Homo sapiens: one gene and its partners. The protein of the gene in region 4 purifies or fractionates together with the protein of the main gene of each other region. This does not show direct contact. Each region holds a gene or a part of one and is shown on either strand. Other genes may lie near its edges.

Region 1 (8,016 bases), on a different chromosome or scaffold from region 4:
TGCTTGTTTGGTGCTTCATTTTTATTTCTGTCTTCTCTCTCCTCAACAAAAGATCTACAGGGACAATATTGAGGGAGACAGTAGGTACAATAGGTTTGGAACCTTGGATATTTGAAAAATCCCAATTCTGAGGCTTTTGTTCTTAGCTGTTAAGTTATGGCCAGTTTTCATCCACCGTTGGCAGACAGCCCAGTGCTGTAGGTAGTTTGTGAATGGTGTTTCAGTGTTAGCATTGAAAGTCCATGTTGGCCGGGCGCGGTGGCTCACGCCTGTAATCCCAACACTTTGGGAGGCTGAAGCGGGTGGATCACGAGGTCAGGAGATTGAGACCATCCTGGCTAACACGGTGAAACTCTGTCTCTACTAAATGCACAAAAAAATTAGCCGGATGTGGTGGCGGGCTCCTGTAGTCCCAGCTACTCGGGAGGCTGAGGCAGGAGAATGGCGTGAACCCGGGAGGCAGAGCTTGCAGTGAGCCAAGATCTCGCCACTGCAACCCAGCCTGGGCGACAGAGCGAGACTCCGTCTCAAAAAAAAAAAAAAAAAAAAAAAGAGTCTATGTTGCAGGAAACCCTTGGTCCTGATCAACCAAACAGTTGATTACCCTAGGTAAGACTGGGATTTGGTGGTTTATAGTAGTTCAGGGAGGAAACCACTCAGAGATGAGAGTAGATCTAGTAGAAAGTGCTTTGAACTGTGAAATATCTGAGTTTGAATCCTGGCTGTACCACTGACCATCTTTGACATCTTAGGCAGATCATTTCCCCTCTCTGATTCTGCGGAGAGTTTTGTGTCTTCTGGTACAGCTAGGCCTTTGGCTTGTCTCCTCCACTTAGCAGCCCTTTCATGTGATTACACAACAAAAGTTGAGAGAGTGAAGCCTGTGTGCCAGCATAGGAATTAGGTGCTGGAGATCACACTGAAGGCACATGGTTCCTGCCTTCCCTGATGCCATCTGTGCCATCTGTGTTACTGCAGCCATGGTGGAGTCTTTTCAGTAGCAAACTCTAGAACTTTTCTGCCTGGAGAGTCCACATTCATTGCTCTTAAAATTTGAGAGCAGCCTCTCTTTCTAGATGGTAGACTTGAGTTCTCTACAGGATAGCCTTTTAGACTAAGAGAACCAGATCTTTCTTGACCCTTCATATTTTGAAAGCTGCTAGTCCTACTCTTAAGTCTCATTCTCATTTTCCCATTTTGGAGTTCCAGCTCTGTCCCTCACAAGCAGTGTAAGTGTCAGCAAGTGAGTTAACATCTTTGGGCCTTAGTTTATTTGTGAAATAGGGATGACTATGATTCCCACCTCATGAGTTAGGAGGATTAAATGAGATCATTCCTATTAGCACAGTATCTGCCACGTAGTAAACAATAAATGGAATAAAACGATTGCATTTTCCACATGTCTTGGAGAGCACTGGAGGCCAGCTCCTCTTCACCCTTTGCCCAGACTTGAGCATCTCAGAGAGAGGAGCCACCTTTCATTGTATTCATCTCTGTGTCTACAGCCAGCCCCTGCCTGGTGAATAGTAGATGCTTAATAGTATTGATTTATGACCTGAAGATGGTGATGGTGATGATGATGTAACCTGTCTGCCAGGATTAAGGAGGGTAAAATAAGAAAATGTATGTGAAACTACACTTTTGTGAATGGAAAAACAACACTGTGTACGTCCCTCCACTAAGGTATTTATCACAGTGTACTGTTCTTTGTTTGCCTATCTTTTCCACTCATAGTCCATGTGCTTCTCCAAAGTGGAGACTACATCTTATCTCTAGTCCTGCTCCAGCCCCTGTCTGATAGCCTACACAAAGTAGGCACTCAGGTAGTTTAATTGAATGCAAATGGCATACAAAGGCAAAGAATTGTAAAGCTATTATTAGGATAGGGAAAGAGGGCTGGTAAATACGACTGGTCCTTCCTTCCTTCCTGGTGCTACTTTTACACAAAACTGTTTCTGAAATAAACCTCTTCCTAGGGGAATGATGAAATTGGCTGAGAGAAAAGGTCAGGGTCAGGAATAACAGTTTCATTATCTGAGCAACTGGACATAGAGGCTGGCACTTGGGCACATTGTCACAAATCTTTGTGTTGGGATTAATGCCACTAACCTGTAGTGTTGGGGTTCCATCTCTGATCATTATCAGCTAAAAATCTTCAAAATGTTTGTCATGCTTCAGGTGCCCTGGCTGCAGAGTTGTGCCAACTTGGTGCAGATTGGGGCACCTCTCCCACTACTGGGCTGTTTGGGCCAGTATTTTGAGGTTCTGGGAAGTATGGAAGTACTGGCTGGGCAATATGGGATGGTAAGAAGTACCTCAGTGAGGTCCTTGCTGCTCTAATTTCTCAGAGAGTCTTTTCTCAGAAGCTTCTCTTTTGCATCCTCAGTAGCTCAAGTGAATATGCCAGTGTGTAGGCTCATTGTTAATAACAGCTCCTCATGTTGTGGAGGAAGGGCCCCTGCAAAGTCACGTTTTGAGACTGGTGCTTGAAACCACCTCTTCTTGGTCTTGGGGAGAAGGCTTGGCTGATGAGCTAGCATTATCAGAGATATGTTTATAATAGGCCCAATTTGATGTGTCCTGAGCCTTGGGTGTAGGCACCCTGGGAATTTCAGGGGCCTACCCCCCTCCTTTTTTTTTTTTTTGCGTGGATCCGAGTCTGGCTTGTTCTTCCTCTCTGGGAGCATGGCACTGAGTTTCAGCACGTAGTTGGCCCCATTTCCCTATGGGTGAGGAAGCTAACATCAGGAAAGTTTGAATATTGAGCTACAGTATTTGCTGTTATTTGCTGCAATGCGGAAACCCAAAGGCCAAGTTTCCAGAGAGTCTGCTGGGGATGTTGACTTGGTGCTGGTCAGAGTGGAAGCTGAAGCACATACTATTTTATAATAAATACTAATGAAATCCTAGATCTATAATAGCATTTCGGATATCTAAAACAAACCATGTGCTTGTAAAAAAGTGGAAAGAGATCAACTTTAAGCCATAAATTCTTGGTAATAGAGGGTTTTTTTCTATTAATGTTTGATAGATATTTTTATTTCCAGAGGAATGTCAACTCCTAATTTCATAATGTATCATGGGCTTAAGAAAATTGAATTTAATAAAAAGCCAAAGATGAATGGCATCCTTAAAGGTCCCAACACTTGTCTTTATTAGCAGGACAAACTGTAGGTCTCCAAACACTGCTGCTCTCCAAATGAAAGTTTAAATGAAAAGTACAGTTGTGTCACAGGTTAAATTTCATTGTGGGCCCAGCTAACATTGTTAGTGAGGAGCTGGCTGTATTTGTTTCCTTAGACACCAGGGCAGCCATACTCACCAGGCTATAGAGCTCTTTCTGTTGAGGAAGTGTTTCTTCTACTTAGGGGAAGAGGAAGGACACATCGGAAAAATCAGGAGTCAGATGAGCCTGATTCATGGGCAACACCTCAGAGTTGGCTCTTGGAATCCTGGATACCTGATTTTGCAGGGGGACCAATGTGTATTTTTTTGGTGTGTGTTCGATTTTGTTATTCAGTTCCAAACCCCCATTTACTCTGTATGTAATGCTTCTTGGGGAACAGAAGGTCCAGGGAATTGGGAAATGAGTGTCCCCCTCTCTTCACCTTGGAAGGAGAGGTATTACCTGGTCTAAGCAGCAGTCTGGGCCTCCCTTCTCTCCCCTCTGCCTCAGCCTTGCAGCCATTTTGCCCTTTCTATCTCTGGGAATAAGCTCCTGTCAGCTTCCTCATCTTTGGAGATCAGCCCACGGAGACAAGGCAACCACAATCTTTGAATCTCTCTGGCATGAAGTCTGACTGACTTGATTTGGTTTTCGGTCCTGATGTGTTGGATTGAAATAGATGCTTTAAAAACAAGCCCAATATTAGTGGGTATGTTTTGCCGGGAGGATACCTGGCTTTCCTGGGACATCAAGGAGATTGACCATTTCTCCTTGTGTTTTCCCACCCATCAATTTCCTAAGTGCAGTCAGGTGTCATCCGTTTCGTGTTGCTTCTCCAGGCTGTCTCTGGAGAGAACCACTTTACCTTGATTTTAATGATACTGGAAAGGTCTTCTCCAGAATGAAGGACCTGGGGAAGGGGTGCTGCTGGAGCTGACTATTAGGGTCACTGAATAGGCAGAGCCCCCTTCCTTTCTCTCTGCAGTGGAGGCCCTTTCCACATGCTAATTTTACTCAGAGAATTTTGCTTTTATTTATTTTTTTTATTATTTCCTATTTGTCTCTTCCAGATGTTTTCAGGGCAGTTTTTTTTTGTGTTGTAAACTAATTCCATTCATGTTTTAAAAATTTATGAAAGCGCTAATAAAAATGTCAAAGTGGTAAAAATGTTAGCTTTTCCTCTGCTTTGATTAAATTTTGCAAACTGTTTTTGAATATTAAAAAGCAATAATTTTTTTTATTCTCTCTCCTCGCTTTCCCTCTTCTCTCTGGTACGCACGTGCTCTCTTCTGCCCTCTCCCCACTCTGGTGCGTTCCTCCCTTCCCAGGAGCGATGTATGAGGCGTGCTGCACAGCCAGCGTTCTGCAAGCCTGTTTGCACACCAGGACCTTGGTGCTGTGCATCTCTATTAAATAGCGGAGACAAATTAATCTTAGAGACACCAAACAAATTGTCACTCCTTGTCCTTCTCTTCCATTATGTTTCAGTGGACTGGGAAAGGCTAGCTAAGCGATTGGGCTGGCGTTGTAGAGGTAGTGTGTGCTGCCTGAAAGGTGGGAGGCGCTAGCTCCTATTACTGTTACTCTTTTCTCCTTCTCTTTGGGATCCCCTTTGGCTTTATTTTTTATCTTTTTTTGAAAAATAAGAACTAATGAAGAAACTTACCAGCTTGGTTCAAACTTCATACAAGGAAATCTATGCATTGGTCTGATGGCTGGTTGTCTATATGGCAGGAGATCAGACCCATTTCAGGACAGGGACCTGGGCAAGAGAAAGAAGGGCGTATTCTTAGGGGCTCAAGTTAGCAAGCCTCTGCTAGAGAACCAGTTGGAGAAACTGGGGCAGATGATACCACTGTCTTCCTTCCCATTTCCAGAAACAATGGGGATGAGGGCTGTGTTCAGTCCCTGGAACCTATGAGGATATTAGCAGTGGGAAGGTTAGGATTGTAACTGCTGGTGCCGTCTCACTCAATCTTGGGTTTGGCCTGGCAGGAGCTAATGAACCCAAAACACTAATGAATCCAAAACACTCATTCTTTGTTGACTTGGAGCTACTGTTGGAAATGGTTGATTACAATAACTTATTTTTCCTTTTCTGTATCTTTGGCACTCCAGGAAATCATCGAGTTCCCCATCCTAAAGCTAAATGGCCGGACCATGGAGATTGAGTCTACCTTTCACATGTATGTCCAGCCTGTAGTCCATCCACAGCTTACCCCATTCTGTACAGAGGTAAGGGCCCTGGAAGTGGGCAGCAGGGGCTGCTGGGAGGGGAATTTTGGAATCCTTGGTGCTCTATATAGGCCACTTAGAGAAAGCATAGGGCTTATCAATCCTTAAGGCAAGTGCACACTAGACCTAGCAGTTAGGTTTTATGAAGTCTGCCACTCCACTCAGGTCACTGTTGTTACTGGGGACCCAGGGAGAGCAGTGGCTTAGTCTACCCCTGCTTCCCCAGCATCCCTTCCTGGTGACCGGCACTTGGAGACCAGGAGCAGAATGGCATTTCTGGGGTTCAAGTTCTTTCCAGTTCAGTTTTCCTTAGGGCCCCTTGGCAAGAGGTAAAGATTTCAGCCACTTGGAAGGCAGGGTTATGTTCAGGCCTTCTTAGCTTTCTGGCATTGTTACTCTGTCCTCCTGTAAAGTGGTCCTGTGTGAAGCGTAGGTTGAGTTTGTCGAAGGTACATTCTGTCACCGAGGGAAGAGAAGAGTGGTCTCAGTGAAGCATGAGACCTGGCTGGCCAAGGCTGAAATCTGCTTATCCTAGGTGGGTACTGTACTTGGCCTCCTTGTCAGCAGGTTAGTATTGGTTGCATTTTACAGATTGTGAAACTGGGCCTAACTGAGATTTTAATGATTGCTGGAGGCTCAAAAGAGCCATTGGCAGAGGGGAGGAGCCCCTGCAAGTTCTAACTCCCAGAACTGTGTGAAGTCTTCTGTGGCTACTTTTCCCTGTGACATGTCATGTAATGCACTCAGTGGTGGCCAACAGGCTGTGGTGCAATCAGGGGTTAAGAATGTGTGGTAGCAGGGGTGATGAGAATCTTTTAAGAGTCTGGGGCTGAGGTACATTAGAGACTTTGTGCCTTCATTTAGAGACCTATCTTCTACATGTGAATGAAATAGGTGAAAAAGGGTTCTTGAGTTATCCCAAACAGTCTCCTTGGTAAGAAGGCTGGGGATGAGCCTGTTTGACCCTGGTGGGCCCTGAGGCTGACTTAGCCCAGACAGGAGGTCTCGAGGTTGCTCCTGAATTCGATGCCAGTGTTTGCCAGCTGACCCAGGTGGGGCTTTTGTTGCAGGCATCCATCTGCCAAGGCGCCTAGCCTCTTAAGCCTTTTGTTATTCCAACTAATGATGTTGGGTTCTGGTTTTCGCCTTCCTCTGCCGGGGTTTCCCCTTTCCCCTGGGATTTACCTATACCACCAGGGGGCGCTAATCTGACTTTTCTGCCCTTTTTGAAAAATCACCATTTTAATGATGATGAAAATTCCCTTGCTTATGCGAAGGGAAGGAAAGACTTTCTTTAAGCCAGCCAGTTACCTGAGCCCTCCACTGGCCTTGAAAGGCTAATGTCCTCTTGTCCTTACGTAGACAGGCAGGCCCAAATTTTAGTAAGTTTGCTACCTGTTTAGGAATGTAACAGTATTCTGCTGGAGCTGGACCCTGGGCAGGAGTGGATGCTTGAGAGTATCGGAAGAAGAGGGACTTCTTTTAGAGTAAGGCTGCTGCTGCTACTTTTTGTGGGAATGGGAGGAGGGATTGTGAGACTATGATGAACAGTTTCTTCTCTCTAGAAAGCTTCACCCAAGGATGCACATACATAATTTGGAGGGGAGTAGGAGTGGTAGTTGGGATCTTTATTATGAAGGCTGTTCTAAAAGTGAAAATGTGGTTGTTCTGTAGGCACCGGGTCTGCCATTTTGTCTCAGGTTTCCAGAGCTCAAAACTCGCCATGATCTTGTCCATCCTTTTTTGGCCAGCCTCATATCTCTCTGCTTCATCTCCCACCTAGCTCCCCTCACCCAGAGGTTGCCCTCTTACAGTCTGTCTTTTCACATGATGGTCCTCCTGCCTGCACAGAGTTCCCACTCTCCCCGCCAACTCCTGCTTGACCTCCAGGACTCTGCTTAGGGTCACTTTCCCTGATCCCCAGATTGAGTTGTGCTTATTCCAACATAGAACTGATCAGATACTTTATACTATAATTATTTATCTGTCTTTTCACTAGACTATAAGTTCTTTGAGGGAAGAAACTAGACCTGATCCATCTCCATCCCATCATTAGGGTCTGCTACCAAGTAAACACTTGATACGTGTCCCTTAAATGAATGAATATTGTCAAGGAGTTATTTTCTGTCTCTCCCAAAAACAACTGTACTGCTGACTTGTTATTTTGAGTAAGTAAGTAAAGTCTTGTTTGGAAAACCTCAGATCATATATATTTTGCCCTGTCTCCATACCAGATGGAATTGTATCTCCGAGAGGCATAGACACAGGATGGGGGCTGTCATTCTGAAACCTCATCCAACCTGGCAGTTGGTGCCTTTTGCGGGTGGGGATGGAGGTCATTCCAACCAGAGAAAATCTCTCATTAGTAAGTGTGAGGAACAGTCCCAAACCTCCAGATTATACTTAAGTAGTTCCTCTGGCAGGATTTTCTCTCTTGTGCACAAGAAGTTCTTAACCCCAGTGTGTGTGTGTGTGTGTGTGTGCACGCACATGCGTATGACATGTGCACACACATGGGCACATGCTTGGGGAGAGAAGCAGGCTCAGTGCTGGACAGTAGGAAGAAGGATTCCAGTTTGAACAAGTCTCTAGCACACACAGAGAGACTCCTACTT
Region 2 (8,016 bases), on a different chromosome or scaffold from region 4:
GTGGGGTTGGAAACCACAGCTAAAAATGCACTGACACTAAATGACAATGCACAACAGAACAGTTCACTGAAAGACAATAGACAGCACCGTTAGAACCACAAGAACTTGAGATAATGGCATGGAAATCTGAAAACCATAGACTTTCTCAGTGAAGTGAAAATGGCTACCAGGAAGTTAGGTTCCTTTGCTTGTTCTTGCATTATTAGGTGCAGACGGGTGACATCAGCCATGCTTCATTATTGTACTTACAAAAATCAATTCTGAAATGATTACATATTTTTATCACTTTGATTCATCCTAGAATGAACCAACATTTTATACATCTGATGGTGTTCCTTTCACTGCAGCTGATCCAGGTATGTTGTCTCACAGTCATTCCCTCCTCCCAGTTGTTTGGTAAAGTAGTAAATTTACAGAAAACCACATCCTCACCAGCACAAGATTGTAACTTTTTGATGTCTTCACATCATTCTAAAATACCAGTGTAATGGTTTGTCTAATATAGAATGCTCTTCATAGTGACCACTTGAAACATTTCAAATGAAAGTATGATTCCACATATAATGTCTTGTCACTTAACAACAGAGGATGGGAAGAATTCTCAATTAAATGCAACTATTTTAATTTTATATTTCCTCTAACTTTTTTATAATCTTAAATTTTCAGGTGATTAGAATGGAGGGGAAAGACGATTCTAGTTCACTGCATAGTCAGCAACATATATTAATATGGGTTAATACTTTACACGAAGAATTACACATTTCATTCATACTTGGTGTGTGACAGTTAATTAAAATCCAAATCTCTGCACATTTCCTCTTCCAGAAGAGGACCATTTATAGAAAGATTGCCTTAATTGTATTAGATGGAACTGTAGAGTGAGGAAGAGAAATTTTTCCCTTTGGTACAAACTGCAACCAGCTTATGGTTGGAATTTTTCCATTTGTTTCCTCTGGATTCCAAGCATTGACTGTCCTGTGTCTCTAGCACAGAGAAGTTTTTTTAGGGCAAGGAAGTAGAATTAAGTTACACGCTATGGGCATCTTAAACTTCACTAAATGTTACTAAATTGTTTTCTAGCATGATTATGCCACTTAATCTTCCCATCAGCAGCACATGAGGGTTCCTGCTCCTCATCTTTGGCAATACTTTTTATTAAACTTAATTTTTGTCCATCAGATTGTATGAAATTCTATCTTGCTGATATTTTATTTCCCTGACAAGTGATATTGAAGTTTTCTTGTTCTTGTTGACCTTTTTGATTTCTTTCTTTGAGAATTGCCTGCTAATACTCTTTGTTCATATTTCTGTTGGATCATTTGTCTGTCTTACTGATCTGTAATTCCTTTTGTAGTCTAGAACAAAGTGATTCTTAGCTGAGGGTTTTGGTTACCTTCTTTCTCTCAGTATTTGCCTGTCTTTGCATTTTGTTTATAATGTCATGTAGAACCTTTGAGTTTTAATGTGAACAAAATTTATCAGTCTTGTTTGTAATTTCTGTGGTTTAAGAAAGTTTCCTTACCATTTCTGTTTTCTTCTAAAAATCATTGTTCTTTTTTATTTTTAGGTCTTTAATCTACCAGTGCAATTTTTATATAGGATGATATCATAGGAATTATCTTTTCCATTGCCTGTTGTCTCAACAATTGGTATTAAGCCATCCTTCCTTTCCTAGTTATAATAAGCCCCCTTTGTTGTATACTATGTAACTCTTCTATCAAATTGTGTCTTATTCCTGTGTTTGTGTGAATCTTTTTTTCTGTTAATCTCTTTCTATGCCAATACTACACTTAAATTATTTTTACCTTACTGTGAATCTTGCTATGTCTGGTAAGACAAATCTTTCCTCTTATTCTTAAAAATTACCTTGATTTATTTTGATTATTTGTTTTTTATTTTTTCTAACCTGTTTAATTGTTTCTAGTACTGTTCGATTTACAGAAATTCAGTTTGGTTGTTCAGTTTCTTTTCAAGGAAAAGAAGTAATGTAGACAGCCAGTAGATCTCAGTTTCTTTTTCTTAAACGTTTTTTAATCTGCTATACTTCATGAAAGTAAAAGAAATCTTACAGTTTTACAGAAAAATCAAGCTAAATTTTGTTTCTGCATTTTGTTCAAATAATCTTGACCTTTTCTCAGAGTTTCAAGTTATTTTTTCTCATCATTCTAAACATGCTTACTTCTGTCTTATATTTTTGTTTTATCTCTTAATTATAACCCTTCTGTTATTTCTGATCATCACACATAAAATTTTTGCCTTAACCGTCTTAAACTTTTATTTGGAAATGATTTCAAACTTACAGAAAAGTTACAAAAGTAAAATTGTACAAGGAATACCTTTTACCCAGGTGTACTTTTTGTTAACAGTTACTTGCTTTATCATTTGTGCTCTTTCCACACACTTTTCTTTTTTTCTCTTTTTTTTTTTTTTTTTTTTTGAGACAGAGTCTCACTCTGTTACCCAGGCTGGGGTGCGGTGATGCAACCTCGGCTTACTGCAACCTCCACCTCCTGAGTTCAAGCAATTCTCCTGCCTCAGCCTCCCAAGTAGCTGGGATTACAGGCCTGTGCCACCACGCCTGGCTAATTTTGTATTTTTTTTTTTTTTTTATTGAGACAGGGTTTCACCATGTTGGTCAGGCTGGTCTTGACTTCCTGACCTTGTCCACACACTTTTTTTTTTTTTCTTAAACCATTTGAAGTTTCATATTAATATGACCCTGATTAAATGCTTCAGTGCTTTGTCTTTTTTCTTTTTTCTTTTTTCATTTTTTTTTTAATGAAAAACACTGTGGCTTGGATTATAGGAACCTCTGTCCAAAATGGTTTATATTTCCTTCTGCCAGGAGCCACAGAGTAGGTATCACTGACTTGGACAAATTTTTTGTTTTCTTGTCATAGGGGTTCTTTATGTGGGTAGTAGGAATTTGAGGTGCAGGCCCATTGTTAAAAATTCTCTGGGGCACCAATTTCTACAAAGTGCTCTGTCCCTATTCCAAACCCAGGCAGACATGACCAAGCTTCCTGCTATCTCGCAGGGAAGATAAAATACCACTGAGATATTTCTTGGTCTTTTTTCCTGATTCACCTTTTGTTTAAGATACCAGACCTTTGAGGGTCCCAGGTTTGTGCAGGTGAGGTTGGGCATGGAGCATGGATTTCATTTTCCTGTTTCACATGGGGCCCAAGACCTTGCTTTCTGGCTTTCTGTGGGTTTTAAAATCCAAGCCCCTTAGTTACCGAGACCAACATCATCTGTCAGCCTCCCAGCTGCAGCAGCTGCAGTTTATATATGGCTTTCAGTTCCTTCTTCATTTGTGACCTGATGACTTGGATTTTCTTTTTTGTGAACTTATCCATACATTTAAAAGAATGCCTGTCTTTTTGTAGCAGGAAGGTTTTACTGTTAAAACGGTCTCTAAATTGTCAAAATTGGGTATCAAAATGTCCCCAGCCCTTGAAGCTGGAGTTACGGTTTTATACAGACTGACACAGTCTTGGAAGAACATGGCTTTTACCCAGTCTAATATAATTGCAAAATTTCCGTTGGCTTCTGTTCATAAGAAACTATAAGGTAACTAGTCTTAATATATACTGATTCATTTTTTTATTCAGAGGTTAGGACTTCATAAAGAAATACTTAACTTAAAAGGTACCCAATAACTCTTCCTAAGACAATTGGCAGATAGGTGTAATATCACCTGTATTACCTTGGAGGACCCAATGAAAGGAAAGTTGGCAGAGCTGAAACGTTTACCAGGTAGCTGCCTTCCCCATCTCTCTGGGAAGAAAGGGAAGGAAAATCCCCCATTGTTAAAACTTTTGGTAGGTTAACTTCATCTGAGGAACAGAGACCAATTGTTGTTACCTGCTTTCTTTACTTCCTTGTGGAGGAGTACAGAGGGAGCTGGAAACCAGTAGTATTTGATTAATATCTTTCCAATGGAAGGACTGTTCTTCCCCAACAGTTATATAACCATTATTTTGTCTGATGGAAAGCAGCAGTAGAGGATATAAACACATTGGCTATGAATGTACATCACCTACAGTGGCTTTGATTTCCAACTTATATCTATAGTACTATATGTAATTACTTTAAGATTTCTGAGCATGCAGGGGGGCAAAAGTCATAATATTAAAAAACATTTAGGGGTGATTGGTCATTTCATGTGATATTTTTTCAGTATTTAGTTTTTCTCCTATGTTGTCTTACAGATTACCAAGAGAAATACCAAGAATTACTTGAAAGAGAGGACTTTTTTCCAGATTATGAAGAAAATGGAACAGATTTATCCGGGGCTGGTGATCCGTAAGTTTTCTTCAGTTACTAACTTCGTGAAATTTCTGTGTCTAATTTATAGGTGGAGATTAGACAAAGTAGCTCATGAAGGAATGGTGTTTGGGGCCAGGCGCAGTGGCTCGTGCCTGTAATCCCAACACTTTGGGAGGCTGAGGAGGGCAGATCACTTGAGGCCAAGAGTTCAAGACCAGCCTGGCCAACATGGCGAAACCCTGTCTCTACTAAAAGTACAAAAATTAGCCAGGATCACAGAATCACAGCTACTCGGGAGGCTGAGGCACAAGAATTGCTTGAACTTGGAAGGCAGAGGTTGCAGTGAGCCGAGATCGTGCCACTGCACTCCAGCTTGGGAGACATAACTAGATTCTGTCTCAAAAAAAAAAAAGGCATTTTGATTTGATGGTGCTATGTGGTAGTGTTTATGTACTAAAAATTTTCAGAAAATTGTATTAACTCACAGACTAGTTCTGAAAAATGTATAGTTGAGGAAAATAACCATTAAAATATAGTATACTTAAGCATAATTATTTTTTTAAAATAGATTCTATTGTATTTAGACTTTAAGAAGCTCTAAAACTTACTGTAAGATCTTGGGCAACTTCTGTTCTGCTTCTCCATCTATAAAATAAGAATAGTAGTACCTGTTGAGTCTTTTTTTTTTTTTTCTTGAGAACTACATGAGAATACATAAATACTTAGCCTTCCGGCACACAGTAGAAGGCTCAAATCTTAGCTATTAAAGGGTAAGTTAAGAGTAAAGAAAACAGATTACTATGTAAAAATGTTTGAACTGATAAGAAGATGTTAATTATAGGACTGTTTATATATCTGTTTCTTCACCTGCCACTCTTTGTAATTAAAGATCCCTTTAAACATATTACTCACTTACCATCAGAGTGCACTACATTTTCTTATAGAAGGACCAGGAAATTGTGAGGTTTAGTACCAATTCTGTTAACAACTTGTGTATATTTGGACAGGCTACTTAGTTTCTTTTCTTCCTAAGTAGGAGATGGGAGGGAATAAATTATATCTTGAACTTATTTTTTTTTTAATATCTCCTGTGTTGTAGATTTTTTTAAAAAAGTGAACCACTTTTATTCTAGTGATATTTTAATTATGTGTCGGTTTGAGATCTAGAAATACAATTGTTGCTGTACTTCTATATTCTAGTTTAATAGAAAACAAAAAAAATACAGGGATTTAAGGACCCAGGCAGAACTAGGAAAGTTCCATCTACTTGGGTATACCGCTGGAAGATAAAGTTGTTCTTGGCATTGAACTTCAGGTTATCCTCTTAAGTTTATTTGGTAAGCATCATATTCTCTTGCCCTAATGAGCTCATGGTTATTTCAACACATGGCCCTGTATTGGAAATGGGGAAGAAACAGAAAAGGACTCATCAGCAGTTGGTAGGGTTGGCAAGATTGTTTTTTCATGCTTGTAGGTGGAAGGGATTGGATTATTGGAGGGGTGGGGAAGATGTTGATAGAATCATGTTATGGAGGAAAAGGGGTAAGACCTGGAGTCAAATTCTGGCCCCGCCACACACTTAAAATTTTACATTGTTCATTTAACCTTCCAGAATCTCTTTATTTTCCATCTCCAAAATGAAGATGATCGTAATGCATATCTTTTTAAGATGGCTATGGACATTCAGTAAGAATGTGTAGATTAAATCCTTAATTGACACTTTAAATCTTTCCCGCCATACTTAACTATGGGAAGCCTTGCTTTCCACCATTTTAAACTACCTAATAGTTGGAAAAAAATCTGGAATAGATGATCTCAAAAGTAGCTTCCTGTGAAAATCTGATTCCAAATAAATGGGAATGTGACTAAATTGTCATCATGGGAATAACCCAGCAGAAATCATAGCAGGAATAGCACTTTCTGTTATTAAGTAGACACAAAATATTAGTGCATCACTAGAGGTGAATGGCATATTTGAAATTATGTTCTATTAATAGTTATATTCTAATTGTTTGTTGGTAAGGTAAATTTATTAATATCGATCTTGAGCCCCAAGTTTATATGTCAAGCCTTTGATTAACTTTCAGGTTATAGAATTTAACTTATGTCTAAAAGTATATATATTCTTTACTATAATTTCACACACAAGGGACTCAGAATCTGTAAAATTTTACTTACCAAATTAAGCATTTGGTTGTCCGAAGACTGCCATTAATGTAATTCTAAAGTTAGGCTTGTGTTCTATTATAAGTCAGTCTAGGAAAGTTGTATTACATTATTTTTTTCATGATTTAGCATCTTACTTTCTGAGTTGAAAAACCTTACACTTATGAATCATCTTTGCTTTTACAGATACTTGGATGATATTGATGATGAGATGGACCCAGAGATAGAAGAAGCTTATGAAAAGTTTTGTTTGGAATCAGAGCGTAAGCGAAAACAGTAAAGTTAAATTTCAGCATATCAGTTTTATAAAGCAGTTTAGGTATGGTGATTTAGCAGAACACAAGAGAGCAAGAAAATGTCACATCTATACCAAATTAAGGATGTTGAGTTATGTTACTAATGTATGCAACTTTAATTTTGTTTAACACTATCTGCCAAAATAAACTTTATTCCCTATAACTTAAAATGTGTATATATATATAATAGTTTATTATGTACAGTTAATTCTACTGTTTTGGCTGCAATAAAATCGATTTTGAAATAAATGAAATGTTGAAAATTTTGCTAGTTGGTTAGATGCTTATCCTTTAAATTCTACTTTTCTTGAGGGGAAAAAGTCTTCTTCTGGAAATACATATTACTGCAAAAATGTAGCATCCTTTTTTAGGTAGGAGTATTATAGCTTTCATTTTAGTTTGACATTTAGTGTCCCAATGAATTGAATTTCAAATATGAATCATAATCTTGAAAATCTTTAGCACTAAAGTCTTGGAATATATCAACAACTGATTTACATATGCAGATGCTATTTGATACCAAGGGCTTTTTAAATGTCATGGGGGGGAAAAACCCAACTTGGTGAACTCCCAGCTAAACAACCAAGACTTCACTGAAGATTTATTCCAATTCTAGAATTGTTCTTTTTTATTTTTATTTTTTCAACTGACTAACTTCATTACCTTAAAGGCTAGAACATTATTCTGCTTTATTTATATGGCTTTCTCACTTTTATTTTGTAGCATGGGTTGCATCGACTTTTTTACTAGAGAATTTTACTAGATATTTGTCATTCAAGTTTTCATCTGCTTTATAATTGATACACCTTGAGGGTCACTTTTCTAATACTTTTACTATAATGTGGTACCACCTCAGCCCTAATAAATAATATTTTTACCTAATGTCAAATCTTTTTCCAGCTAACTAAAAACTGTGTACAAAAGGATTGCTTGTAAATATGCATGTAAATAGTTCTGTTAATAACCCACTGTTTTACATTTGGTACATCTGTGTCTGCTAATACAGTTAGCTTTCTCACTTTTCTGCTTGTTTGTTCAGTCTGAATTAAAATTAGACTTTGAAAATAAAGCTTAAATAGTTGTTTCCTCTAAATTTTTGAAGTAGCATCTGGTATTTTAAATAATTTGCTGTTGAACTTAAATGACATAATTAATTTACTTAATGGTTTGAAATCAAAGAAATCATATTAGAAGATATTTTATTCATTCTCTGAATAAGAATTCAGTAACAAGTCTACCTTGAAAAACTAGCAAATATAAAACATTAAAACTTTAAAATTCC
Region 3 (8,016 bases), on a different chromosome or scaffold from region 4:
GCAAGTAAGTGTAATACATATAGTTAGGTAAAAATGATTCCTTCTCAACTGTGTATGAAGGACTCTTACCTTGCAGTTATCCAGAAAAGGGACTTGTCAATATCATATCTGTGCCAAGAAAGAACCCAGTGTGCAGCTACAGCTTGCATGGCATCATCAAAAACAGTTTAGAACCCAAGCATACACATTTCGTTTTATTTGTAGAAAACTGTGGTCTGTCTGCCCAGCTCTGTTCATTGTGCCTAAAGATATGAACTCAGATGAGGTCAGAAAAGGGTATCTGAGATAATTCAGATGACGAAGGAGTAGAGTTGCTATTTGTACACAGCTATTGTGGAAACAGCAGCTCTGCCCTCAGGGTATTCATGATTTCATTGCTGGTATACTGTACCCATGAAAGCAAGCCCGGTTACCGGATGTTTCTCTTAGGAAGGAAATAACCTCCCATTTACCAAAAAGCTATTTCAGAATTTGTTATTTAATGTACTTAGATTTTTTTCATATTTTGTGAAGATTTTTATGCCAATAATTAGTATTTGCTAAGTGAAGACGTTTAATATCAAATGAAAAGAAACTGGCTTTGTTAAAAACTATTCTTTTTATAATGGACAGATAAAACATTTTTAACTTAAATGAAATGTCGTGTTAAAGACATACACTTTGTATGAGAAAAACAGCTGCATGTATTGATTATAAAATTATTTTAGAGAAAATGAAAATTAAAGTGAAATATCCATACATACTCTCACTATCTTTGCTAATAATTATCTTCTTGGTGTGTTCCCCTTTTTTTCTAAATAGTTTCTTTTTGGAGGCATAATTATAATACAGTTATGTAGACTTCTCGTGCCTTCATTCCACTTAACATATATTTCTGTGTTGCTTATATAGTGTTTATAATTTTTAATTGTTGCATCATCTTTCAGTGAGTAGCTAAATCACTGAAAGTAATAATTTATTTACCATTTCCCTTCTGTGGCATAAATGTTATTTAATTTTTTTTAGCATAAATAATTCTGGGGTGAACTTGGTGCATTTAACCTTTTTCATATTTTGGACTATTTTCGTAAGATACATTACAAGATATGGTATCATCTAGGTCAAAGGATTTCAACATTTGTCTCTTCCTAGTTTTGCCAATATACTTTCCAGAATTTGTACCATTTTACTCTCTCTTCTCAGCATTGTATAAGAGTACTGGTTTCACTTCATCCCTCCCACCATTATAGAAAGATCTTTCTCCCTGCATAAAGTGCATTTTAAATTGCATTTTTTATCACTGGCAAGACCAAACATGTTTTTCATATGTATGCTATACTCTGTATTCTTAAGGTTACTTTGTGGTTTTGTTTTACATTTAGATGTTTATTTGATTTTAAAACTTAATTTTTGTTCTTCTAATCTGTAAACTTGAAATTAAGGTTTATTTTCTGACTGTTAAAAAAATGAATATTGAGAGGACCTATGATTGAATTTATGATATCACAAAGGACATAAGCTGAGTAAGATGAACTTATTCACTAGTATACTGATATGAGGGGAGACCTCTCAAAGCATGGGCAAATTAAATTTGGGGCACAGGTGGGCAGCATACTGGTAAAATGTTTTAGCGTCTGTACATAGCCTCGACTGCAAATGTCAACAGTCATGAGTGGGTTAGGAGGGCGGGCGCCTAAGGTGTTTGGAAGACGCCTCGTACAGCATTGAGGCCAATGTGGAAGAGGTCAACTCTCATGCTCCACACCAAGACACCGCCCCCCAAGCTTGTCAGACACTTACGTCAGAATCAATAGGGATTGGAGGTGTCCTTTTCGGACACTTGGAATTATGATTTATCCAACTATTAGTCACCTTGGGCCCTGTGTTCTTTGTCTTGTTAAATCATTATAGAAAGAAAAAGATGACAAGTGGAAAAGAGGGAGCGAACCAGTTCCAGAAAAAAAATTGGAACCTGTTGTTTTTGAGAAGGTGAAAATGGTAAGTTGGGAAGTATTTGCACTGTATGGACAGCCTCAGGTATGTGTATATTTGTGAAAGGGAAAGTAGGAGGTCTCGTGGTGAGTACCATTGCACCATCACAGCTGGGGCTAAAGGGTTCTGCATCTGGATTGGACTGCCTGCTATCATTTCTGCTCTCTCGTTACCAGTTGCTGCCTAAATCTGCTCTGTAAGGGCTTCGCTTTGGGGCCAGATGAGAACTCAGGAAATGCATCTGTTCCATCTAAGCAAGAGGCACATTCCAAGCCAGAATGCCAAGGCTGAGGGACACCATCTGAGCAGATGCTATTTCCACATTAGTCCTTCTCTTGTTAGACCTTCTGTATCCCATTTTCTGATTTCAATGAAGAACAGTCCAGAAGTGAGGCCATATTAGTCCATTTTAAGTGATCCCTTCTTATGTTCTTGCTTTGTCATGTTGAAACAGACACCCTTCTTTTTCCACAGGACATATTGTGGCTGTAGTAGTAGAATCTCTAACATAAAAACTTGGAATCTTGGGAGAGAGGACTTTACTTACTATTGCTTAAGGAAGAGTCTTTTATCATCGTTCTGAATCACATTGTCTGTGGACACAATCACTAGTGATACTGGCAGAGTGAATTAGGTAATCTTTAAACCAACCTCCCTTTTGGTGTTAAAGTAAAAGGTTTTCTAACCACTGGGAGATTTGTTGGCTCTTGGCTCTTGTACCATCAGATACCTACCTTTATTCTTGGCTTTTCCTGGGACCAAAAACTGCTGCTTCTGTTGGATCCCCTGTTCTGTGGTTGTCTTGGTTTCAGAAAGATCTGTCTCTTTAGGACACCAGACAATCACAGGCGATATCTTTGTTTTTCATTTTAGGTTTGGTTTATGCACTTCTGCCTCCTGACTTGATTCTTTCACCTAATACTTCCTGAGTTTTGTTTCTTTGGTAACTCTCTTTGAATAACAGCAGCCCTACCCACAAGAACACCGTGGCTTTACAGTGGAGATGGGAAAAGAGTTCAAAACCACCTGCTTATTTCTTGCTATAACATATTTTCACCTTAGCCACAGAAAAAAGAAGACCCACAGCTACCTCGGAAAAGCTCCCCGAAATCCACAGCGCCTGTCATGGATTTGTTGGGCCTTGGTAAGAGTTGGACTTTTCAGCTTCCATGTTCTTACAAATTTTGATAAATTCTCAGTGACCCTGGAAGATAGGTAGAGATGGGGTTCTCCAGTTTTGTCTTCATTGCCAAGACTGTTCTCTCACATTCTTCCTGATCTGTTTTACATCTGAGCAGTTGCTCTAAGGAAGTGTTTACTGTGACACTTTTCAGAGCGACAGTGTGGTGTAGTGGTTAAGAGCATGGCCTTTGGAGCCAGTGTCGCTCTGTGTTACTTACTGTCTGTGTGACCATGGGTAGTTTACTTAACCTCTGAATGTTGCTTTCATAATCCGTGCAGTGAGAATGAGTCTCTACTTCAAAGGTGTTGTTGGAAGGATTAAATGAGATAATGCCTCTAAAGCTCTTAGCCCCATGCCTGGCACATACTGAGCCCTCCATAAATGTTAGCAGTTTTGCTAAACAGCACCTTTGAGCCTCATGTCAATTCCCTGTACTCCACTCCCTGCCCCCATTCCTTTCATTTTTCAGATGCAACCTGTTTCTGAGATGGCCTGTGGTCATTTTTCTCCAAACCTTTGAAATCCTGAACTAGTGATTCTGCCCTTTCAGAAAGAAAGCCTGTTGTCTGCCTTTCACAGCACTGATGGTTGCACTTTGTTTCCATCCGCTTCTGCTGATTGAGGTTATTGGCTACTTAGGCTTCTAATTTCTGTACCTTTCCTTGCTCTCTGAAAATGAACCCTCCTCCATACCTTGCCCTTCAAATAGCCAGAAGGGAGCCAGCCAGCCCCCCACTGTGGTGCTGAAATACCCTTCAGGCCTGGGCGTCTGCTGCCCTGTGCCTGATAGCTGGGCTACAGGCTTCCCCAGAGCACTCTGGGAATGTGGGGTGAAGCCTCTTTTGAGAAGCCCCGTCCATGCTAGATGGTTCCAGAAGTCTAGATTTCTAGGTCCATGAGCTTATGGGCCACCTTTGCTTTTTGTCTAGAATAGAAGGAAGGCATGGGCTTAATAAGCAGTGCTGCATCTTAACTTCGATCTCTCTTTCTAGATGCTCCTGTGGCCTGCTCCATTGCAAATAGTAAGACCAGCAATACCCTAGAGAAGGATTTAGATCTGTTGGCCTCTGTTCCATCCCCTTCTTCTTCCGGTTCCAGAAAGGTGAGTCTTGTGGGCTCCTCAGGATTAAAGAACATTCTGAAATGGGTGATTTTGATATCTTAATCATGGAACCACGTCATGCTTCCTTGGTGGAGTTGGACTTTGGTTTTCTTGATTCTTCATTCTTCCCTTAACATTGTGTCATTTCTGTCACAGTCTAAGATTGCTGTTCATGCCTTTTTTTCTCCTGCTCAAAAAGGGTGGGCCATTTGAGTTGCTTCTCTGGAAAGTGTGTGATACTGTGAAGGCTGATACTTGAGGCTAGCTCCTCGGCCTGAGTTACTGCCAGAAAATTGTAGGTAGGAAAGACTTGAAACCTTTAATGGCTACCATTCGTGAAACGCCTGCTATGTCTCAGGCACAGTGTGAGGTGGTTTTTGTATATCATTTTGTATATTTCATTAATAATTTCACTCCTTCACCACAAACCTGCAAAGTGGAAATTTTACAGATGTGGAGACATTAGTTTGTAAAAGTTATGTGACTAGCCTGTGGTTATACTAGTAAATGGCTACACTGGGGTCTAAACTCAGTTCCCTCTGCTGCATCATTTGTGGGTTGTTTTGTTTGTTTGTTCCTACCAAATCACATGTTTTGGTGAAAGGAAAGAATTGTAACAGAGCTTAATTATCAGGTGTGTTCAGATAGTTGAATGGTAAAAATGTTAGGAAGCTATTAACTTGAGCCATGAATTCTTATTGCAGATGTTAGGAGCAGCAGAGAGGGAAGGGAGACCCTTAAAGAGACCCCCATGAGAACCATTTCAATTCTCCCCCCGCCCTCTTTGCCCTAAGGTTGTAGGTTCCATGCCAACTGCAGGGAGTGCCGGCTCTGTTCCTGAAAATCTGAACCTGTTTCCGGAGCCAGGGAGCAAATCAGAAGAAATAGGCAAGAAACAGCTCTCTAAAGACTCCATTCTTTCACTGTATGGATCCCAGACGCCTCAAATGCCTACTCAAGGTAGATTTCATGGGTGTCATGGCCATGTGCCAGGTAGAGACATGAGGGCTTCCATGCAGGAATTATTTATTGTGACAGAGGACAGTTGCTTTGGGGGCCAGGATGTCATACACCAAACAAACCTGAACATGACCAACGTATCAGCAGATGGAAATTAATGTAACTCAGAGTCATACTTCTGTGGAGTCTGGGGTCACAATTCGGTGAAGTCTAGCTCAAGGTCTGGATCTGGACCCTAAAGGGAAAATGGCTCGGTCAGCAGCCCATTGGTAAGCTATAGCAGGCCTCGTAGGGACTCTAACTACTTTGCTGTGTAAAGAGCATTGTGAGTAGAGTAATCCTGAGAAATTCCAGCTGGAAAGGGTTAGCCAGGGAGAGTTCGGGCTGACTTTATGTTTTTCCCTCTTTAACCAACCTGTATGTGTGTTTTCTTGGCAGCAATGTTCATGGCTCCCGCTCAGATGGCATATCCCACAGCCTACCCCAGCTTCCCCGGGGTTACACCTCCTAACAGCATAATGGGGAGCATGATGCCTCCACCAGTAGGCATGGTTGCTCAGCCAGGAGCTTCTGGGATGGTTGCCCCCATGGCCATGCCTGCAGGCTATATGGGTGGCATGCAGGCATCAATGATGGGTGTGCCGAATGGAATGATGACCACCCAGCAGGCTGGCTACATGGCAGGCATGGCAGCTATGCCCCAGACTGTGTATGGGGTCCAGCCAGCTCAGCAGCTGCAATGGAACCTTACTCAGGTAAGCTACCCCATTTTACTTGCAGCAAGAGTTTTGAGCCTTCCTCAAGTTTTTCTCGGTTTGTACCTCTCCACTATCCTTTGAATCCTTTCCATGTAGATGAGATAATGTAAGAGACATTGTTAGGTTTGCTTTTTTTTTTTTTTTTTTTCCTAGAAGGTCTGTCTAAAGTCAGACTTTCTGAGGAGTTCTGGGCTCCTGTAGAATAAGCCCAACTGCCTAAATCTGAATCTCTCCACACATTCTCAAAAGCAAAAACAAACACACAAAGAAACCCTGTACAAACAATGAATGCAGATATTCTCACAACAATCTCATTTGGTAGACAGAATACTGCAAGGTTCAAATGGCATGGCAATGGGCATATAAACACCAAATCCAGCGGAGCCAGCATCACAGAGGAGACTGTAAAAAGAGAAGATGGAGCAGGGGCCTAGCAATAATACCACAGATAAAGTAACCCCCCAGAAGGAGAAGGACCTACCCTCATCAAAGACATACTGAGAACAGGTCTGAGATGTGGTAGATTAGAACTCTGTTTACTTGGAGGATCAAAAATAAGAGACTTCAGATATATAGGAGTATAGGTAGTAACCTTGGGAAAGCATTGCTTCTCGGGGAGATGGGCATGGCCTAAAAGGAGGAGGTACCCTTTAGAGGACTGGTGGTGAAGGAAAGAAAGACACGAGAAATGGGAATGAGAATCACAAAATCAAATATACACCTTCTTCCCTCTTCCAAAATAACCACTTCACTAATAAAAGATGGTGCTCTTAATCTAAGAAATTTAGTAAGCCTCCCCAAACCTTCACACCTATTATTGCTGATTGAGAAAAAATAAGACCTTACAAAAATGAACCAAACATGGAAGCTGACATTTGTACACAACTACTACAGGAAGAAAATAGAAAATGAAAATCAAAACATTTCACGTAATGAATATTCTCCCTCAAAAAACAGTCATGAAGCAGAAGAAAATTGTTACACAATCTACCAATCTGAATTAAATGTCCTTAAACATTTGCAGATAAGACAAAACACCTTAAATCAGAAATTCAAAAACTTAAAGCCAAAATGGATAAAAAACTGCATGCTGTGAAATGAAAGTTTACTAAACTCAGAAAAGAAATTGAAGAAAAAGCCAAAATTTTCGTATAAAGACTCAATTACAAGTTAGCTAAAGAACAATAGATTGAGCTGAAAATATATTCGGCATTGAGGAAAGGCATGAAACAGCTAAGAGAATGAAAACTAAATATAGAAAGTAGTAAAAAGAATTAGATGGAAATTAATATGGAAGTTAGGCAAAGAAAACTTACATATATTTGGAGATGCCCAAAGAAATAAAGACAAAATAAATAAAATATGGGACAGTATTAATGTGTTTAACACCAGAAAACATTCTAGAAATAAAAGACTTGGATATAATATGGAAAGAGCCCACTGTGTGTCTGGGAAAATTGACCCAGAACAGTCAACTTTAAAACATATCCCAGCAAATCTACAGACTTTAAAGAACATTCAAAATGTTTAGGGGTCCAACCTTTTCCATACCTCCTACCCACAAAAATCTGTTACTTAGAACAAACAAAAAATACCCAGGTTGACATCAGACTTCCTAGCAGCAAAATACAAAAAGAATAACAAGGAGAGTAGTATTTTAAAGACACTCAAGTGTATGCAAGACACAACAAGTATTTTACAACCAAGCCAGCCAAGCTATCCTTCAGGTATCAAGGCTGTAAAAAATAAATATGCAAGAACTCAGAGAATATCACACTTACAAGACTTTCCTGGGGAATCTAACAGAAGATAAGCTTCATCCACCTAAGAGATGACTGGGGTCATTTTCATTTTTGGCAAAAGAACTGATGGTGAGAATTGAATGTTTAATTGAGAATCTAAGACTAAAACAAAGGTGGTGACAAGCGTTGCAGAATATACATTATATTCTGACAAACAAATACAACTGAAAATGAAGGAGGAGGGAGAAAAGTTGAATAATAAATATTGTATGGGAAAGAAGTAGAAATCGAAGGATGCAA
Region 4 (8,332 bases):
GCTGGAACCACAGGTGCCTGCCACCACACCCGGCTAATTTTTGTATTTTTTGTAGAGATGGAGTCTTGCTATGTTACAGCTCAGGCTAGTGTGGAACTCCCGGGCTCAAGCAGTCCTCCCAGCTCGGCCTCCCAAAGTGCTGGGATTACAGGCATGATTTTTCTTTTTTTTTTGAGACGGAGTCTCGCTCTGTTGCCCAGGCTGGAGTGCGGTGGCGCGATCTTGGCTCACTGCAAACTCCGCCTCCCGGGTTCAAGCAATTCTCCTGCCTCAGCCTCCTGAGTAGCTGGGACTACTGGCACACACCACCACGCCCAACTTTTTGTAATTTCAGTAGGGATGGGGTTTTGCCATGTTGGCCAAGATGGTCTCAATCTCTTGCCCTCATGATGTGCCTGCCTCGGCCTCCCAAGGTGCTAGGATTACAGGTATGAGCCACCACACCCGGCCAAATTTTAGACACGGGGTTTCACCATGTTGGCCAGGCTGGTCTCGAACTCCTGACCTCAAGTGATCCACTTGCCTTGGCTTCCCAAAGTGCTGGGATTACAGGCGTGAGCCACTGCGCCCGGCCAGGCGTGATTTTTAAAATTCTTATTAAGGACTCTCCCAGAACACCAGAGGCTCACGGGGCTCTGAGCATCCTGCTTGAGTCTCCATGGAGACGAAGCCTATGTCTCCTGGCCGACTCCACCAGCCCCAGTGCCACGCTGTGCCCGGCCAAGCCTCAGCTGAGTCTAAGCACCTGCGTCTGTGCTGGGCCGAGTGGCAGGATGTTGTGGGAGAACCCCTGACCCCTTGCCCAGCTCTGCTCGTCACCCAGTTCTGATGTTCTGTTCCATCTGGGGGTGGCCAGGAGGCTGCCAGTAACAGCAATGATGAATAGCCATTCACTGAGCTAAGCTCCCAGACACTCTGCTAAGCCCACATTTTAGTTCATGAGTCCACACCAGACCAGGGCCTTCACCATATCCTCTTTTTCTTTTTCTTTTTTTTTTTTTGAGATGGCGTCTCACTTGGTCGTTCAGGCTGGCGTGCAGTGGTGCGATCTCGGCTCACTGCAACCTCCACCTCCCAGGTTCAGGCGATTCTGCCTCAGCCTCCCAAGTAGCTGGGATTACAGGTGCATGCCACCACGCCCGGCTAATTGTGTATTTTTAGTAGAGATGGGGTTTTGCCACGCTGGCCAGGATGGTCTCGAACTCCTGACCTCAGATCATCTGCCAGCCTTGGCCTCCCCAAGTGCTGGGATTACAGGTGTGAGTCACCGTGCCCGGTCCCTCTCCTCTCTCTTTAGTCCTGCTTGGCAAATAAGGAAACTGGGGCTCAGCTGCCTGATGTGTGGGGAGATGGTATGGGATGGTGGGAAGTGTGTGTGCTCCAGAGTCTGGCTTCCTGGGTTTACATCCCAGCTCTCTTACCGTGTGGTCTTGCACCAGCCACTGGAGCTCTCTGGGCCTCAGTTCCCCCTCTAACGCGGGTGGACATTTCATACAAATGGCGTCACACGCTGTGTGGTCTTCTGTGTTTGACATCTTTCACCAAGCATGATGTGCTCAAGGTATGGCTTGGGTCAGAGCCTCATTTTTTTTTTCATGGCTGAGTCGTGTTCCATTGGCTGGATGGAGCACAAAATGTCCTCTAAAGCCAGGCATGGTGGCTCACACTTGTCATCCCAGCACTTTGAGAGGCTGAGGCGGGAGGATTGCTTGAGCCCAGAAGTTTGCGTACAGCCTGGACAACATAGCAAGACTCCATTTCTACAAAAAATTTAAAAATTAGCCAGGCATGGTGGCATGGACATCTGTGGTCCCAGCTACTCTGGAGGCTGAGGCAGGAGGATCGCTTGAGCCCAAGAGGTCAAGGCTGCAGCAAGCTATGATCATGCCACTGCACTCCAGCCTGGGTGACAGAGCGATACCCTGCCTTATAAATAAATAAATAAATAAAATTGTAAATTAGCCAGGTGTGGTGGTGGGAGCCTGTAATCCCAGCTACTCAGGAGGCTGAGGCATGAGAATCACTTGAACCCAGGAGGTGGAAGTTGCAGTGAGCCGAGATTGCACCACTGCACTCCAGCCTGGGCGACAGCAAGAGCCTGTCTCAAAAAATAAATAAAATAAGAATTAAAAATTAAATTTTAGGCTGGGCGCAGTAGCTCATGCCTGTAATCCCAGCACTTTGGGAGGCTGAGGTGGGCAGATCACCTAAGGTCAGGAGTTCGACACCAGCCTGGCCAACATGGTGAAACCCATCTCTACTAAAAATACAAAAATTAGCCAGGTGTGGTGGCACATGCCTGTAATCCCAGCTACACTGGAGACTGAGACAGGAGAATTGCTTGAACCCGGGAGGCAGAGGTTGCAGTGAGCCGAGATAATGCCACTGCACTCCAGCCTGGGTGACACAGCGAGACTCTGTCTCAATAATAAATAAATAAATAAATAAGTACGTTAATAAAATTTTACACTATTTGGGTGTGGTGGGGTGCAACTGTAATCCCAGCTACTCAGGTGGCTGAGGCAGGAGAATCATTTGAACCTGGTAGGTGGAGGTTGCAGTAAGCCAAGATCACACCATTGCACTTCAGCCTGGGCGACAGAGAGAGACTCCATCTCGAAAAAAATAAAAATAAAAATGAAAATAAAATTTTAAATGGGTGTAACTCTGTGGAGGGAAAAAGAAGGCTGAGAAAGGAGATAATGGTGACTGAGCGGTTTTAGATAAGGTAGATGGGGAAAGTGATGGGGAATTAAGGAATGAGCCACACATCATCTGGGGAGAGCACATCCCAGACAAAGGGTACAGCCCGTGCAAAGGCCCTGAGGCAGGACCGCACCTGACAAGTGAGAGGAACAGCGAGGAGGCCTGTGTAGCTGCAGCAGTGAGGAGGGGGAGAGAGGGAGCAGGGGAAGGTGGGGACAAGGCAGAACAGGACACGCAGAGCCTTGTGGGCCTCAAGAAGGACTTGGGCTTTAATTATGGGACATCTTTGGGAAGTGTTTTTTTTTTTTTTTTTTTTGAGACAAGATTTCATTCTGTCGCCTAGACCAGAGGCAGTGGTGCGATCCTGGTTCACTGCAGCTTTAATATCCCAGGGATCAACCGATGCTCCCACCGCAGCCTCCGAGTAGCTGGGACCAACGGTGCACACCAACCACTCCTGGCTGATTTTTTTTTTTTTTTTTCTCAAACAGAGTTTCACTCTTGTTGCCCAGGCTGGAGTGCAATGGCGCAATCTCGGCTCACTGCAATCTCCGCCTCCCGGGTTCAAGCGATTTTCCTGCCTCAGCCTCCTGAGTAGCTGGGATTACAGGCATGCACAACCATGCCTGGCTAATTTTTGTGTTTTTAGTAGAGACAGAGTTTTCTCCATGTTGATCAGGCTGGTCTCGAACTCCTGATCTCAGGTGATCCACCTGCCTCAGCCTCCCAAAGTGCTGGGATTACAGGTGTGAGCCATCGTGCCTGGCCTGTTTTCTTATTTTTTACAGCAATGGCGTCTCACTATGTTGCTCAGGCTGGTCTCCAACTCCTGGGCTCAAGTGGTCCTCCTGACTCTGCTTCTCAAAGTGCTGGGATTACAGGTGTGAGCCACCACGGCCAGCACGTATTATTATTTTTATTAATATTATTGATGAGTTTCATACGTAAAGGATCACGGGCACTTTAGAGCTGGGAGATACTTCAGTATTTCTCCTATCCTGTCATTATCAGTGCGAGCCAGTCTCCCTCCTTGTTGATGACATTATTGATGAGTTACATACTTAAAGGGCCAAGGACACTTTCTATGTGTAAGCACCCTATAGAACTGGAAGATACTTTTACCATTTCTCCTGTGCTGTCGTGATTAGTGGGAGCACTTTGTCTTGCTCTTGATTAATTATTATTAGTGTTGTTATTATTAGGTGTTTTTTTTTTTTTTTTTTACCAAGACGGAGTTTTGCTCTTGTTGCCCAGGCTGGAGTACAATGGCACAATCTTGGCTCACTGCAACCTCCGCCTCCTGGGTTCAAGTGATTATCCTGCCTCAGCCTCCCGAGTAGCTGGGATTACAGGCACCCCCCGCCACCGAGCCCAGCTAATTTTTGTATTCTTTAGTAGAGACGGGGTTTCACCGTGTTAGCCAGTCTGGTCTCGAACTCCTGACCTCAAGTGATCCACCCACCTCGGCCTCCCAAAGTGCTGAGATGACAGGCGTGAGCCACCGCGCCCAGCCATATTATTAGTGTTATTAATATTATTGATGAGTTACCTACTTTAAGGATCACGGGCGCTTTCAACGACAAGCCCCCTACATTATCCCAGCAACTTTTGACATTCTTCCGGCCGATGCCCTCCGCGGGAGCCGGCGGGGACCCCTGGGAAGCCGGCTAAGGCCCGTCCCGCCCGCAGCTCCGCCCTCGCCCACCCGTAGGCGGGGCCCGGGGCCTTCCGGCCTCAGTTTCCCCCCGCGGCCCGGGGATGCGGGGAGGCGCCGGCTGCCCCGCGCGGCGCGGCCGCCAGGGGCCGCTGCGGAGCCGCCTTTGTGGTCCCGATGCCGGGGCGGGCGCGGGCGGGAGGAGGGCGCGGGGGCCCGGGAGGGAGGCGGGAGGCGCGGCCGCCGCTCCAGCTGCGAGTCCGCCCGCCGCCCGCCGCCGCCGCCGCCGGCTCGGTCCCGCGCCCGCCATGGCCCGCCTGACGGAGAGCGAGGCGCGCCGGCAGCAGCAGCAGCTCCTGCAGCCGCGGCCCTCGCCCGTGGGCAGCAGCGGGCCCGAGCCCCCCGGGGGGCAGCCCGACGGCATGAAGGACCTGGACGCCATCAAACTCTTCGTGGGCCAGATCCCGCGGCACCTGGACGAGAAGGACCTCAAGCCGCTCTTCGAGCAGTTCGGCCGCATCTACGAGCTCACGGTGCTCAAAGACCCCTACACGGGGATGCACAAAGGTGGGCGCCCGGCCCCCTCCCCCCTCTCCCCCTCCCTCCGCCTCCCACCCCACCTTCCGGCATCTTCTCTCCCCCATCACCATCCCTCCTCTGCTCACCTCCCTCCTCTGCCTGCCTCTGCCGGAGCATCGGTTCTTACCCCCTCCCTCCCACCCACCCCTCCTCCCCTCTCTGGGGGTGCAGCTGACAGATCCGAGCGGGCCCCCTCCCCTCCTCCGCCCCCTCTCCCTCCCTCCCCACCTTCCGGCATCTCCTCTCTCTCTCCCTCTCTCTCTCCCTCTCTCTCTCCCTTTCTCTTCTCTCCCATCTCCCTCGACCTCTCATCCTTCCCCCCACAGCACCCTCTCTCTCCCTCCCTCCCTCCCTCACCCTTCCATCCCCCAGACCCCCACCCCTTCCTCCCTCCCTCACCCCACTCTTTCCTGCCCGTTTGCCAGGGGAGCCTCGGGAACGCCGGCACCCCTCCCTGCCCCCCCACCCCCATTCATTCAGCCTCCCCAGGCCCCGTCGGGGAAGTTTGCACCTGCGGACTCCATTGCTTTGGTTATTTTCACAAAGCCAGGCCGGCGGGGCAGGTCCGGCCGCGGGGGACACGGATGCCCAGGACCCCAGGCTAATCGGTAACTACAAAGGAAGACGGGTTGGGGGCGCCCGGCTCGGGGGGACGCGCCCGCCTCGCCTGCCTCGGGTGGCGGAGAGGCTCCCGTCGCTGCCCACCCCCTGGCCCCACCACCTCCGCGTGGATCAGCATTCTCTCCTCCATTTCTCTGCCCTCCCCCTCCCCCGCCTCCACCTTGGGCTCAAGTTGAAACTGGCCGAGCCTCTTAGCAATGTGTTGGGGTCTCAGGCCCAAGACAATGAGCTTGGACGTGTCCATCTGGGCAGAGCCCAAATTCTGGGGTGGACAGGGAGGAGGAGGGAGGCGTGGGCGGCCTCAGGCCTGTCTGCCTCCCTCCCACTGGATTCTCCCTCCGATGGCATCCCGGGTGGGGGTGTCCGGCAATTGTATCCCCAGCCCTTGGTTCCCATCATGGGCCCAGCGTCTGAATTGGGGTGGCTTTGACAGCCTTCCGGTCAGGTGTTGGGGACTGGGGGTGCCACTTCAAAGGCCTTGTGCTGGACACCCCCGGCCCTCCCCCTCCCATCCTCCAGGAAGACCCTGGAGAGGCCTTGGGGAAGGACCGGGGCCCATGACCTATTTTACACCCACTTTTTCCCCAGCGCTGCGTGCCCGGTAAGCATGAATGCATGTTTATTGAATGAATGAATTGAATGAATGAATGAATGAATGAATGAATGAATGAAGGGGTTCAAGAAGGCCCTAGGGAGGGTCTGGTGAGATGGGGCCCAGGCCTGTCACTTCAGCTAGACCCTCCAGCTGGTTATCTTGAGGGAGGAAAGAAACCCCTCCCCATTCCCCATCTCTTTTCAAAACCAACCATCACACACACACACACACACACACACACACACACACAAAATTGGGCCTGAAAAATCTAACTCCTCCATGTGGCCTAGGAGGGCAGAGGGGCTCCCATGCGGCCCCCATAAGTCAATATCTGGAGTCCAGAGGTGATAGGTGGGCTTTTCCCACACGCCCCCACCCCTGGGTACACCCAAAGCACCCATTTCTAGAAAGATTCCCGTGGGAATGGGGGAGTCCACATGGCCCCCCAAACGGTTGCATTGAAAGGCCGCTGGTTGAGCTCTAGGTCGGAGAGACAGGTGGGGGTGCAGGGACTGGAGCATCCTGGTGACTCTTCTTCATCTTTTTTTTTTTTTCCTTCTTATTTTTAAATCTCTGGGAAACCTGGGCACGGGAGAAGTGAGGGGTGAAGGAGGGGCTGGGGCTGGGTTTTCACCTGGCCCTGAGCCTCAGTTTCCCTGCTGTCAACAGAGCAGGACCATGACGCATCCCCAGTTCTTTTTTTACAGGTTGGAGAATGTTGGGGTCCCTGGGGTACCTCGGGGGTATTTCCCATTTGCGGGCTTTCCTTGGAGGGTGAGAATTGAGAAGCCGTGTGCACGACAGCCGGCAATCACCCTCCACTTTTTAGGGGTCCCAGGTCCGTCTGTGTGTGAGATACAGGGGCTTCACCTCGTGTCGAAAATGGGTCCAGTACCCTCGGGGAAGTGAATCCCCACCTGCGTGGGGCCTGGCTGGACTTCACCTGGTCTTTGCCTGCAGGTGCTTGGCACGAAGGGGTGGGGGGGTGTCTTCAGAATCAGCATCTGTGATCCAGGTTTGCGTTTGGGGCTCAGCTGTGTGACTTCTGGCTAGTGACTGCCCCTCTCTGGGCCCTCTCTGGGCCTTGGCTGAAGGGAGGTGGAATGGTGAATGGGAAGTCAGGATTTTTGGGGAGAGGAGTGAGTTCAGACACCTGCCACCAACATGACCTTATTAGGGCTGTTTCTGGGAGCCCTGGCGTGGTTTAGTGTGCCTGTTCAGAGTGGCAGGGCCTTGGGGATATGGACCCCAGGCCTGGAGAGAAATCCCTTTCCCTGGATGCCCGGCGGGGCCCATGAGACTGGGCACAGGAGATCTGTAAGGAGTAGAGTGGGGTGGGATGAGAACACCCTGGAGGTGCACCCGGCTCCTGGTACAAGCCCGGAGGGGGTCAGCTGGTACCACCTCTAGCCCTTCCTTGGTGTCCAGGCTGCAGGGACTTGTTTGATTTCCCCATGGAACCCATCGCCATGGAGGTGGGCTCCGAGTGACAGCGCATTTCTGGGAAACTGAGGGCTTGAGAGACATACCCTGGGTCCCACATTTACCGGAGCTAGGCCCCCATTACCCCCCCTGCCTTCCTCCCAGGCCAGGAGAAGCAGCTGTGCCTGTATCTGTGTGACATAGGGGTGACAGGTTCCCCAAAGCCAAGAGTGAGGCCCCCAGAGATGGTGCTGGGGATGGAGGGGCCCGTGACACCTGACAGCCACAGCTGGCCTGGCCGAAGGTGGCGTGGGGGCAGCCAGATTCCTAGAGGCCGTGCTGAGACTCAGAGAAAGGCAGGAGGCCTCATCCAGGAGCGGGGCAGGGGTAGGGGGAGAGGGATGCGTCGAGGTGGTCTTCCGAAAGAGGGCAGGCCCTGGGGCGCTGGGTTTGTTTTTAAGAGAGAGAGAGAGAGAGAGATGAGGACACAGAGAGAGAGAGAGAGACACGCAGGGAAAGAGAGACAGAGAGACCCACAGAGAGACAGAGACAGAGAAACACAGACAGGGAGGGGGCTGCAGAGAGATGCAGGCCCACAGGAAGACCACAAGCCTGCTCCTGCCAGAACTCCGCATCCAGAGAGCGGGGACCTCCCCCAGGAAGGACCCCCACCCCAGGCCAGGGGCTCAGGCCAAGAACTGGAGGCTGGGATTGGGGCTCCCGCTGGCCCCCCTGCAGTTCCTGCCCCGGGGACC

What was found.
Region 1: the proteins of CELF5 (region 4) and ERI3 purify together in Homo sapiens (affinity purification with mass spectrometry; 2 studies listed by BioGRID and IntAct, with this or other methods). This does not show direct contact.
Region 2: the proteins of CELF5 (region 4) and PAIP1 purify together in Homo sapiens (affinity purification with mass spectrometry; 2 studies listed by BioGRID and IntAct, with this or other methods). This does not show direct contact.
Region 3: the proteins of CELF5 (region 4) and SMAP2 purify together in Homo sapiens (affinity purification with mass spectrometry; 2 studies listed by BioGRID and IntAct, with this or other methods). This does not show direct contact.

Annotation. Positions count from the first base shown.
Region 1 is NC_000001.11:44,317,013-44,325,028, reverse strand, and holds part of ERI3 (ERI1 exoribonuclease 3), read left to right. Parts: intron 1-5,284; coding exon 5,285-5,401; intron 5,402-8,016.
Region 2 is NC_000005.10:43,526,078-43,534,093, reverse strand, and holds the end of PAIP1 (polyadenylate-binding protein-interacting protein 1), read left to right. Parts: intron 1-301; coding exon 302-356; intron 357-4,214; coding exon 4,215-4,308; intron 4,309-6,624; coding exon 6,625-6,718; 3' UTR 6,719-7,827; downstream 7,828-8,016. UniProt on the Homo sapiens protein: Acts as a coactivator in the regulation of translation initiation of poly(A)-containing mRNAs. Its stimulatory activity on translation is mediated via its action on PABPC1. Competes with PAIP2 for binding to PABPC1.
Region 3 is NC_000001.11:40,411,126-40,419,141, forward strand, and holds part of SMAP2 (stromal membrane-associated protein 2), read left to right. Parts: intron 1-1,890; coding exon 1,891-1,977; intron 1,978-3,033; coding exon 3,034-3,115; intron 3,116-4,146; coding exon 4,147-4,256; intron 4,257-5,050; coding exon 5,051-5,216; intron 5,217-5,654; coding exon 5,655-5,971; intron 5,972-8,016.
Region 4 is NC_000019.10:3,220,072-3,228,403, forward strand, and holds the start of CELF5 (CUGBP Elav-like family member 5), read left to right. Parts: upstream 1-4,589; 5' UTR 4,590-4,668; coding exon 4,669-4,927; intron 4,928-5,206; exon of another isoform or gene 5,207-5,547; intron 5,548-8,332. UniProt on the Homo sapiens protein: RNA-binding protein implicated in the regulation of pre-mRNA alternative splicing. Mediates exon inclusion and/or exclusion in pre-mRNA that are subject to tissue-specific and developmentally regulated alternative splicing.